Regions from separate parts of the Homo sapiens genome. Here region 1 is linked to region 2. The links come from fine-mapping of genetic effects on gene expression. A gene starts in region 2. The other region holds a variant in brackets. All regions are shown on one strand. Distances are from middle to middle.

What was found. PIP is the estimated chance that this variant, and not a neighbour inherited with it, causes the effect. A credible set is the group of variants that fine-mapping cannot tell apart.
Region 1: its variant is the best candidate, but not a certain one, in a credible set for the expression of TMEM125 in tibial nerve (GTEx, PIP 0.71).

The regions. Positions count from the first base shown.
Region 1 is chr1:43,303,154-43,308,518 of GRCh38, reverse strand. TIE1 (tyrosine kinase with immunoglobulin like and EGF like domains 1) reads right to left here. Exons shown (of 23, transcript NM_005424.5): 2 at 3,354-3,668; 3 at 3,176-3,286; 4 at 1,524-1,679; 5 at 1,246-1,377; 6 at 947-1,087; 7 at 595-723. Among named protein-coding and RNA genes, the nearest start is that of TIE1, 4.9 kb to the right of the region's middle. The variant G/C (reference allele first, on the strand shown) is at 2,941.
Region 2 is chr1:43,267,327-43,272,691 of GRCh38, reverse strand. It overlaps TMEM125 (transmembrane protein 125), which reads right to left and starts at 2,709. Exons shown (of 4, transcript NM_144626.3): 1 at 2,607-2,709; 2 at 1,899-2,011; 3 at 353-508; 4 at 1-114. RefSeq lists an enhancer at 2,575-3,078.

The DNA.
Region 1 (5,365 bases), 36 kb before region 2:
TGACCATTTCCCCAGTCCCCCACTCCACTGTCCTGGTACCCAAACCTGAGTCCCCAATCCCTGGGTCCCCTACCCCACTGTCCTGGCACCCAAACCTGAGTCCCCAATCCCTGGGTCCCCTACTCCACTGTCCTGGCACCCAAACCTGAGTCCCCAATCCCTGGGTCCCCTACTCCACTGTCCTGGCACCCAAACCTGAGTCCCCAATCCCTGGGTCTTTGCTCTTGTTCTTTCCTCAGTTATCTCTCTTTTGTCCTTCATATCTAATCTCAGATCACACCTGCTTCCAGACCCTTCTCTGACCTGCTCAGTCTGCCCAGGGGCATCCTCTGGGCTCCCACATTCTCTGGGCTGCTGCCCTTTCCACTATGGCTGGCTGGCAGTGAGCTCCTTGCTGGACTGGCTCCCTGCTGGACTGACTCCCTACCAGACTGACTCCCTGCCAGAGCTCCCTGTCCATCAGACTCTAAGCTCCCTGAGGGCAGGACTTGGACCCTCGTAGGGAAAGGAGGGACTACTCTCTTCCACCGGGGAGATGTGTTTGGTAAAGGCCGACTTATCTTGGGGGGCTCTCAGAGGTCATAGTGCTTATACCTGACTTCTCACAGTGCACTCCATGCCACCCAGAGGGGCAGACACAACCACTGAACCGGTCACAAGTGCCACCATTCTGACACTGGCACTGGAGTCGGCAATCAGCCCCAAAATGACCAGGGGCACAAGCTGGGAATAGAGGAGGTATGATTAGAGGGGCATGGGACAGGGGGCAATGAGGGCACAGATGAGGGCGCAGATGGGGCACAGGTTATACAACAGGCTGAGGATAGAAGGACTGGTCAAGTGAGCAGGAGGGCTTGCTGCGTAAGTCAGAGGCAGAGTGGAGGGTCCGGGTCAAGCTCCTGGCCAGCTGTCTTGGTCAGGGACCATGAGGGTAGGTTAGGCATACCTTCTTGGCACTGGCTTCCTCTCCAGCCAGATCCACAAGAGCAGCCATAGGGGTCTGGGAGGCAGAAGGTGAGGCCCCGGCAGCCTGATATGCCTGGGCACTGCTCCTGGCAGCTCTGCCCAAAACGGCCCTCTCTGCAGGCTAGAAAGAGAGTGTGTGGGGTGTATGGGCCTCTGTGGGCCCCTGGGCCCAGGACCTGCCTGTCGCCCTTACCCTCCAAGCTCCACCCACATGGTTCTAGGGTCTTCTCCCAGTCAGGGATCCTCTCCTGCCTGGGTCCTAGCTCCCCTCCTCCTTACCCTGTTCACAGCGGGTGCCAGTGAAGCCAGGGGGGCATACACATTCGCCGTCATGGTCGTGGCAGACACCTCCATGTAGGCAACCTGGGCACTCCTTGGTACAGCCTGGCCCCCAGCGCCCAGCCCCACAACCTGGAGGAAGGTGTCTTCAGCAGCTGACCCTCACCCACCTGACCACTGAGGACTGGAGATCCAGGGGCTCCAGGGGACCCACAGGAAGTACCCATAGGGCTCCCAGCCTCCCACCCTACCCACAACCTCTGCCCTCTGCCTCTGACCCCGCACGATGAGCCGAAAGAAGGCGCTGCCCAGGGGGCTGGCTTCCAGGTAAGTGGCACTGTAGATGCCGCTCGATGGTGGCTGCACATTTGGGAGCTGCAGCAGGAACCGCCCATCCTGGGCTTCATGCCAGTCCAGGGTGTAGAAGTAGGATCCTGGGGGACATGAATGTGTCAGGGGCCTCAGCACTACATGAGGGCTGTGTCACCTCTCTCTGTCCACCTCTGCTCAGCTCACATCAATGAGCCCCATGCACAGTGATGAGACCTAGGGCCGGCACCACGAGAGCCTATGCCCACGCCAGAAAGCTCAGAAGTGCCCTCTTCTTCATGCTCCACCAGCCACCCAGTAAATCACCAAGTCCTGCTCAGTCCATCTCCTCCTCATCCCCTAACCCAGTCCGCTTCTCCCCACACCCACTGCCACTGCCCTGGTCCTAGCCTCCAGGGGCCTCACAAGGCTCCTCTGCCTCCAGTGTCACCCTTTCTTGTCCCTCCTCCACCCAGCAGCCAGGGTGATTTTTTACAACAGACTCCTCTCTAACTCCTCTGCTGAAACTCTCCTGGTTCTCCAGTGACCTCAGGACAAAAATCCAGCTCCTTAGACATCATTTTCACCAACTTGGCCGTGGCCAAGCCATCCAGCCCCATTCGTCTTCACACCCTTCTTGACTCCTAACATTCCTGAATTCCTGAATGGATTGTTTCTCTTCTAGAAACACCCTTGTGTTTCAGACCCTACTGCTCTTCTCAGTCCCTCCTCCTGGAAGGCCCTTCCTTCCTTTTCTGCCTTCTTTGTCTTCCCACTTCTCCTCTGAGCACAATTCAAGTGCCATCTACTCTAGGGTCTCTCCCCTGAGCCTCTCCCTCTTAGAAGAGTGCTCCAGTCGCTGCCCCACCCGCTTCTTGCCTCTTTGCTCAGGGCTGAACAGAGAGCCTAGAGACCCAGGTCTGCCTGTGCCTCTTCACATTTCCTGTCAATTCACGGGGTCCAGAGCTCAGGAGGCAGCCCCCTTGGCCAAAGGGAAGGGTCTTCCTCCCTCAGGAGCCCAGGTATGCAAGAGTCAGCCAAGGGGTTGTGAATCTGAGGACTGAGGCAGGAATCTTGGGGCCACATAGGAAAACAGCTTCCTTCTATGGGGTGGCCAAAGGGTCAGGGTGGAGGACAGGCCTGGGACTGAGATCCCACGGGTCTACCCAGGCCTCAGCATGAGGCTGTCTTGGGCATCAAGGATCTGGGCTGGACAGATCTTTGGGAGAGGCTAGACTCTGCCCTGCCTGTGTTGGGCATGATGTTACCAGTTCTCTTCCTCCTCAGGGGGACTGATGCGGTCTGCCAGGTGGGCTATGTGACAGCACCTGCTAACTCCCAGGGGAGAGATGAGGGTTTAACATCGTGCTCATTTGGGGCTAAGAG[G/C]GAAGGGGCAGCTGACCACAGGCTCCTGGCCCTCTGTGTACAGAAGGAAGGCAGCTCAGAACTACAGATAAGATGGGTGCAGGCACATCCCATGGGACCTGGTCCACTACAGAGGAGAGGCCCTGGAGGTCGGGTGTGTCAGGGGCCAAAGCTGAGGGTCCCATGGGTCATGAAAGTGTTGGGGCCTCAGAACGATGGGTCTACCCTCCCCACCAGTTCAAATGCCCCTCTTTACCGTTGCTCTTCCAGATCACGTCTGTCTGCTTCTCCTTGTGCACACGTGCAGAAAGTACAGCGGTGTCACCTTTGTTCACAGTGTGTGTGACCTTGTCTGGAAGCAGGTGGGCTGCGGGGTGGAAGGTGGGTCAGCGGCCTGGTTTTCCCCGCGCCATCCCCCCGCCTGCCTAACTCACCTCCAGGGCTGTTGTGCACGTAGATGACGCGCGTGCGCCGCGCCCCAGCACCGCCCACGCAGGAGAAGACGCCCACGAGGTCCGAGGGCTTGGAGAAGCCGCGAAGCGTGACCTGGTGCGAACCGTTGCGCGCCAGGCGCAGGGGTGGCCCGGGCGGGGTGCGCACGATACGGTCGTCCTTCTCCAGCAGCAGGGGCGGGCCCCAGGCGTCCGAGCCCCTCCCCGCCCCGGCCTCCCCAGACACGCAAGTCAGGAAGAAGCGCTGGGGGTCCGTGAGCCGCAGGTTGGCCAGCAGCGTCAGGTCCACCGCCGCGCCTGGGGCCAGGACACCAGTGACTCTATTGTAGTCCCAGCCAACCCTAGTGCCCCAGAGCCCCCAGCCCCAGCCCTCTGGTCTTACTGATCCACCGTCCACTCAGAAGAGGGTCTCCAACCTTCACCCCTCTTCCTTCCCCTGCCCGGTTCTTCAGACCCCACAGGCCTCACTTTATCAGGCATTCCCATCCCCCTCCTTTCCCCTTCCATGCGCACTGGCCTCTTTCCCTCAAGTCTCTTCATTCTAAAAGAACAAAAACAAAACCACGAATCCTTCTCTGGCCGTGTCCCCTCCCTTCTCCTGCCAGATGGCTTCCCTTTCGCCCCAGCTTTCGGAAAGAATGATCTATGCTCCCTGTCTCCGTTTCCTCACTTTATTTCTATCAGTCCTGTTTCCCCACTCGTCTCTAAAACTGCCCTGCAAAGGTTGCTGTGAGCCACTTCTCCCTGCCTCCACCACGAGAGTGCAGGCCAGGAGAGCCAGCCAGAACAGAAGTGTCCCATGGGTCCCCCTCTCTGTCACTATGGAGATCTAGAAATGTCTGGTGGGCTGGGATTTGAGGTGGGAGAGGCTGAGTTTTGCAGCCAGAAGGTTGTGGCACAGAAATGGAGCTAGGGCTGGGTGCGGTGGCTCACGCCTGGAATCCCAGCACTTAAGGAGGCAGAGGTGGGAGGATCCTTTGAGCACAGGAGTTTGAGATCAGCCAGGGCAACATAGCAAGACCCCATTCTCCAGAAAAAGAAAAACAAAAAGAAATGGAGCTAAGCTTGGGGCTGGGCCCAGAGCCAGGGAGGGCAGCCCCAGGGCAAGGCCTGGAGCCCAGACAGACACAGACACGAGGTAGGTCTTGGTCTTTGTTTGCCTTCCAAAGAGCTCACGCCCTAGTTGGAGGAACAGGCATGAACACAGCTGCCAAATGTAGGGCGCTGTGCTTTTGAGCACAGAGAAGGGACCCCTGCTCCAGCCTGGGGGAGCTCAGGGAGATGAAGAGATGCTTCCTGGGAGGTACAGTTGGAGCAGGGCACATTGGCGTGAGGACAATGGGGAGGGAGAGAAATCAGGGGCAGGGAGAGGGCATCCTAGACAGAGGGAACAGCCTGGACAGAGGCCTGCAGTGGCAATATTGTGGCAGGTGGAGGGGGCTCTCCAGGTTTGTGTGACTGGAGTACAAAATGTGAGGCTGAGGCAGGAGAGATCAGGTGGAGTCAGAGTCCAGTCTGGACGGTGGAGAGCCTGCGAGCCTGCCTTAGCTCCAGGACCCAGAACCCCTCCACCAGCCAAGCCCTTCCTTCTCTGTCTCTTGTAGCTGACTGTCAAGCAGTTCATTAGTTTAAATGCCACCTAGCTTATCAGTGTTTGAAAGGCTACCATGAGCAAACGAAGCTGGCATTTACTGACCGCCCACCACATACCAACCCCCATTTTCCACTGGATCCTCACAACCAGTGAAGTGGATATTCTTTCCAGTTACAGAGGAGGATCATGGTAATTATTCTACTGGCTTCTTTGAGCAAGCTCGCCCACTCCCCCAGTTTTAACCATCACCTCTGAGTCAGTAACTCGGGAACGGTCTTTCAGCTTGGACCTGCATTTCCATCAGCTTTTCCCAAATCTGCTCCTCTCCAGTGCTCCCTGACTCACTGGACAGCACCCGCCACTTGAGACACAAACTATGGAGTCATCTCTACTCCCATTG
Region 2 (5,365 bases):
TCAATGTCAGGGGTCAGAGGGTTCAGATCACAGCCTGGAGCACCTGCCACCTGCTTGGCAGCTACAGGCCCAGAGTCCCATTCCTCTCACAGTCCAGGATATGGTCACCCTCACCTGTAGGGGAAGGATCACAGTCTTACCTTCCCAGCCCACCTGTCCCCCACGGTCCCACCTGGGAGCCTTGGGGATGATCCCTGAGAATCCACCCCAGTGTTCCCCCGAATCTCCCCTGGGATAGCCCCCTCTGCAGTACTGTCCCTTGGGAATGGCTCTCCAATGACCCCAGGGGAGTACCCTGCCCATAGGGTACCCCCTAAAACCCTCCAGGGAATCCCCTCACCCAGGCCCTGACCTCTCTGCCTCTGGCTCTCTCAGTCGCTGGTCCCATCCCGGCTGGCTGAGGGAGCTGGTGCCACGGTGGACGATGGGACGAACAGCCAGAGATAAAGCCTCATTCAGGATCCTACTCACATGGCCTCAGCTGTCACCACTGGTTCCTCGGGAGGAGCTGTGGGGATGGAGGGGGCGCTTATGACTTAACCCTTCTGGAACCAGAAGCCTGACTGACCTTGACACTTCTCTTTTAGGGCTGTGTCTCCTCCTTCTCTGTGGGTTAGGACCAGACCCCTAACACCCTCCCTCCCCTAACATCCCATCCAATCTCACAGCCATGAGTTTGGTAATATAAGCTGCCAGTTCCCAAATTCCTCTCTCCAACCTACATCTCCGTCCTGAGTCAATTGTCACCTTGATGTCCCTGTGATGCAACAGGTCCCAACCCAAGCTCGTTGTCTTACTCCAACCTGTTCCTTCTGCGTTCCTCACTTCAGGCATGGCATCACTGCCCTCTCAGCCAGCTCCTCCTCCCTCTGCTGTATCTAATCCACGTCCTGTCCCTGGGGCTCCACCTCTAAACATTTCTCTAGCCAGTTCCCTGCTCTCGTATCCTTGGCTCCCGCCTCCACCTCCTCACTGGTCTTTCTGCTCCCCTTGCTCTTCTCCACACTCGCCATTCCCCCATGCCATCCTCCTCCACGATTTCTCTAAAGTGGAGCAAAGGAAAAAGGAGGGCTCTGGATTTGAACCCCAGCTCCAGTCCTTCCCACCGGTAGGAACATGGCCAGGCACCTAACAGTGGCTGCTGATTTAACCTGTCCTCCAGAGGAAAGCATGTCTCACATTGGGCAAAAATAAAGCACATGAGGTCCCTGCCTTCAAGGAGCCCCAGTCTGCAGCAGAAGACAGAGACAGAAGCAAGCAGGCCAGTGCCTGTGCTAAGTGTGGGTGTGGGTTAGTCAGCCCAGAGCCCTGCAGAGCCCAGGAGAGGGGTCTGGGGGAGGGGCCAGGAAGCCTGAATGGTTCGTCTCTTAGAGCCTCAGTCTCCTTGTCTGAAAAGTGAAGACAATAACATTTATCTTGAGGGGTGGGGATGAGTCACCTGACATCTTCGTTTCAGAATTCCAGTGGGGCCTAGAGCCTGCATAGATGCTCAAAGCGTGCTTTTTGAATACATGAAAACGATGTTACCCCTCCAAGGCAGGACAGGGCAGAAGACGTAGGTCCTGGGTCATTCTGGGAATATTACTATGTGGCCGTGCACAGGTTACATCCTGACGAGGTATCTGTCCTCCCGGAGACTCCTCTGCAGAGGCTGACCCCTACCCCCGAGGTGGGCGGGGGCTGGTGCCGATGCTCTCAAGGAAGTGGGGGAGGTGGGCGTGGCCGTGGAGTCAGTCCCAGCATTCCCCTGGGCTGTGACTTCGTTGGTCTGAAAATGCTTGCACAGGTGTGCTGAGACAACGGGTGTCAGGCTGGGGGCGGGGTGGAGGTTCTCAGGGGAGAAGCGAGTGGGAGAACATGGGGGCGGTGGGGCGTTGGGGGACAATGGGGGAACTCACGAGAAGCCTGGATGTGCTGGATCCGATCCGAGAAGGCAGGGCCGAGCAGGTGGGGCACTCTAGCTTGGTTTCCGGGGAGACACTTCACCTGCCTAACCTGCACTCAGGTGAGCCTGCCGGGAGGAGGATGAACAGGTGTCGTTTCCAGGGCAGGGCCTGAGCCGATTGGCTGACGTGGCACTGCTCCTTCTGCTGGGCTGAGGCATTCCTGTGAAGGGAGGGGCTTCTGTCCGCTGCAGTTAGGGCTCGGAACACAATTCGCAGACCTGGGCAGCAGGAGGAATGTCGTCTATCTGCCCCAGAGCCTGGGCGCCAACCCATTCCACAGCTCCGACCCCGATTTAGCTTTAGCTCCAGCTTCAAAACCAACCCCTAACTCTAGCTGCAGCTGCAAACCCTAGCTAGAACTCCCAGCTTCCACCCCTGCCCCAGCTCCTGCGTCACATCTCAGCCCCAACCCCCAGCCCCATTTCCAAATTCAATTCCAGTCCCAACTCCAAATCCAACCCCTAATCTGGCTAGAAACCTCAGCCCCCAACTCCTAACTCCAACTCAAATTCTGGACTAAGGTCCTAGATCCCAACCTCACGCTCAGCCCGAACCTCGACTCCTGTTCCTGAATCCAGCCCCCAAACCCAACGCCAACCTCAAACCCAGCTTTAGCCCCAAATTCCAACATCAGCGGACCCCCAAACACAGCCCCAGTACCTCCATCCCTTGGCCCTAGGCTGCAGCCTCCAAAAGCCCCGTGCTCATTCTCCCTCAAATGAGCCCCACAGACTGGATCCTACTGGGGAAGCAGGATTTGAGTGAACAGGGAGGAGGGGTGAAGGCCTTTCAGGCAGGAGACAGGAACTCCCAGAATAAACACTTCAGAAGAAATGCCACACTCCTTCACAAGGCTCATAAAGCCCCTGCCATATACACCAGGCCAGTCATTTGCCACTGGCACCCTGCCCTCCTCTCTGCCCTTCCAGTTTTTGAACTCAAGAGTTCTCCCTTGCCTGGGATATTTGCCACTCCCCAGCCTCAGTCTGGGCAACTTGCATTCTTCAACTGAGATGCCACCTCCTCCAGGAAGCCTTCCCTGACTTGCAGGCTGGTTTAGAGGTGCCTCTTTGGTGCACCCATGGCCCCTGTGCTTCCCCAACAACTACTCTTACTGCAATATGCTTAATTGCCTATTATGTATTTACCTGTCATTCCCTGCTAGATGTGTGGTCCCCAGCAAGCAGACGGACAGTGCCTCTTTTGCTAATCATCATGACCTCAGTAGCTAGTATGTAGGACGTAATCAATACATATTTGTTGAATGATTGATTAGCAGACTAAATGATAGCATGAACTGACAGCTGTGGGGGTTTTGAGCAGGAAGCATGTGAGAGGAAGCTGGAAAGACAAGTTTGGCTCAGGCTGTTCAGGGTCTTGAAGGCCCATAGTGAGGCACTTGGGCTGTGTAAGGGGCCCATGGAGGGTTCTAAAGTTTAATAGGGACATGGTGGGAGCTTCTAATAGGCAAATCTGGCACCACACACACACCACCCTCCGGACTGGTGAAGGGCAGGCTGGCTGGAGCTGTTGTAGGCTGTCCCTCATCTCCTGGATCAGCCCCTGTGATGTCTCTTGCTTTCTCCTCCTGATGTGTATGAACTAGAAAAGAAAAACAAGATCACCCTTATCTTGTTATTATCAGTTCACAAAATAATGGTGCTCGACCTGCTTTCGCATCTCTTTGCTTTGTTCTGCGGAGATGACTGGAGGCCAGTCATAATTCTAGAACAGCCCTGTCCGCTAGAAATATAGCCTGAGCCGCCGGGCATGGTGCCTCACGCCTGTAATCCCAGCACTTTGGGAGGCTGAGGTGGGCGGATCACGAGGTCAGGAGTTCAAGAGCAGCCTGGCCAACGTGGTGAAACCTCGTCTCTACTAAAAATACAAAAATTAGCCAGGCATGGTGGCAGGCCCCTGTAATCCCAGCTACTCAGGAGGCTGAGGCAGGAAAATTGCTTGAACTTGGGAGGCAGAGGTTCAGTGAGGCGAGATTGTGCCATCGCACTCCAACCTGGGTGACAGAGCAAGGCTCCGTCTGCGGGCGGGGGCTGGGGCACGGGGAAGAAAAAAGAAATATAGCGTGAGCTACATATATAAACTTTTCTAATAGCTGCATTCAAAAATGAAAAAGAAACCCATGAGATTAATACATTTAAATTAATACATTTTAATTCCAAAACACATTTTTATATATGTTATTGATGAGCTATTTTACAGTTTTATTTTGTACAGGGTATTTTATTTTTATTTTTAAAAATAGAGATGGGGGTCTCGCTATGTTGTCCAGGCTGTTCTCAAACTCCTGGGTTCAAGCGATCCTCCTGCCTTGGCTTCCCAAAGTGCTGAGATTACAGGCGTGAACCAAAAGTCTTGAAAATTTGGTAGGTATTATTTTATACTTACAGAGCATCTCATTTATCCCAGCCACACTGCAAATGCCCAGGCACCACATCTGTCATGTGGCTGTGTCCTTACTGGATGGCATGGCTTTAGATGTCCTTTCCCTCAGAAAAAGGTCAGTGCAGTCTGGATCAGGAGGATGGTTGGGCGGAGTGGGGTGGGGAGACAGTGGTGTGGCATTGCAGGTGTTCATCCTGCCAATTTGCAAAGCATTATAAAGGTATCCCCTTTATAATAAAGGGGCTTGACTCAGAGGAGCAGGGGAGCCAGGGGCCCAACAGGGCTTGCTGGCTGCAGATTCCTCTTGCACACATCTGACATTTATTTACCCACCCTGGTCCCCAGGTCCAGTCCCAGCCAGACCCATGGGCCAGCTGTCCCAGGCAGAGCTGCAGCAGGGGACCCATGAAATTTTCCTTCCTTTACCCCTTCCCTTAGGGGTTTGAAGGGAAATTTTTGGATGGGAGAAACAACACCTAAAAGCTTCGTTGGTTTAAACATTGATTGGGCAAGTCTCTATTCTAGTTCTGGGTCTTATCAAGTAACTTGGAGTCAAGTGGAAAGGCAGGCTCTTCACAGGGCTGTTGAACTCTGTCCCCAAAGCAGAGGTTGTTGGGGTAATTCAGATTGGTGACGGTGAAGGTCAGGAGGAGGAGGTGGCCGTGGGCACAAAGCGGAAGGTGCGGACGAACCACCCGCAGATCCACAAGAAGGTGGTGAATGGGAGTACTGTGGGGAGAACACAGAGGCTGTGGGGCTGTCTCCCAGCTTCTGCCATGTTCCCACCACAGGCTGTTCTCAACCCAGTGGCCCGAGTGATTCAGTTAGGAGGTGCAGAGTCCCTCCAGCAGCCCGCCTTCCTCAGAGGAACAGAGTCCTCCCACCGCCATAAGGCCCTCTCTGGCTTCATTCCTATTGCCTCAGAGCCTCTGCACCAGCAGCTCCATCTGCCTGGAATGCTTCTGACCCACATGGCTCCCTCCCTCCCTCCCTCCTTCAGGAATGTTCTCAAATGG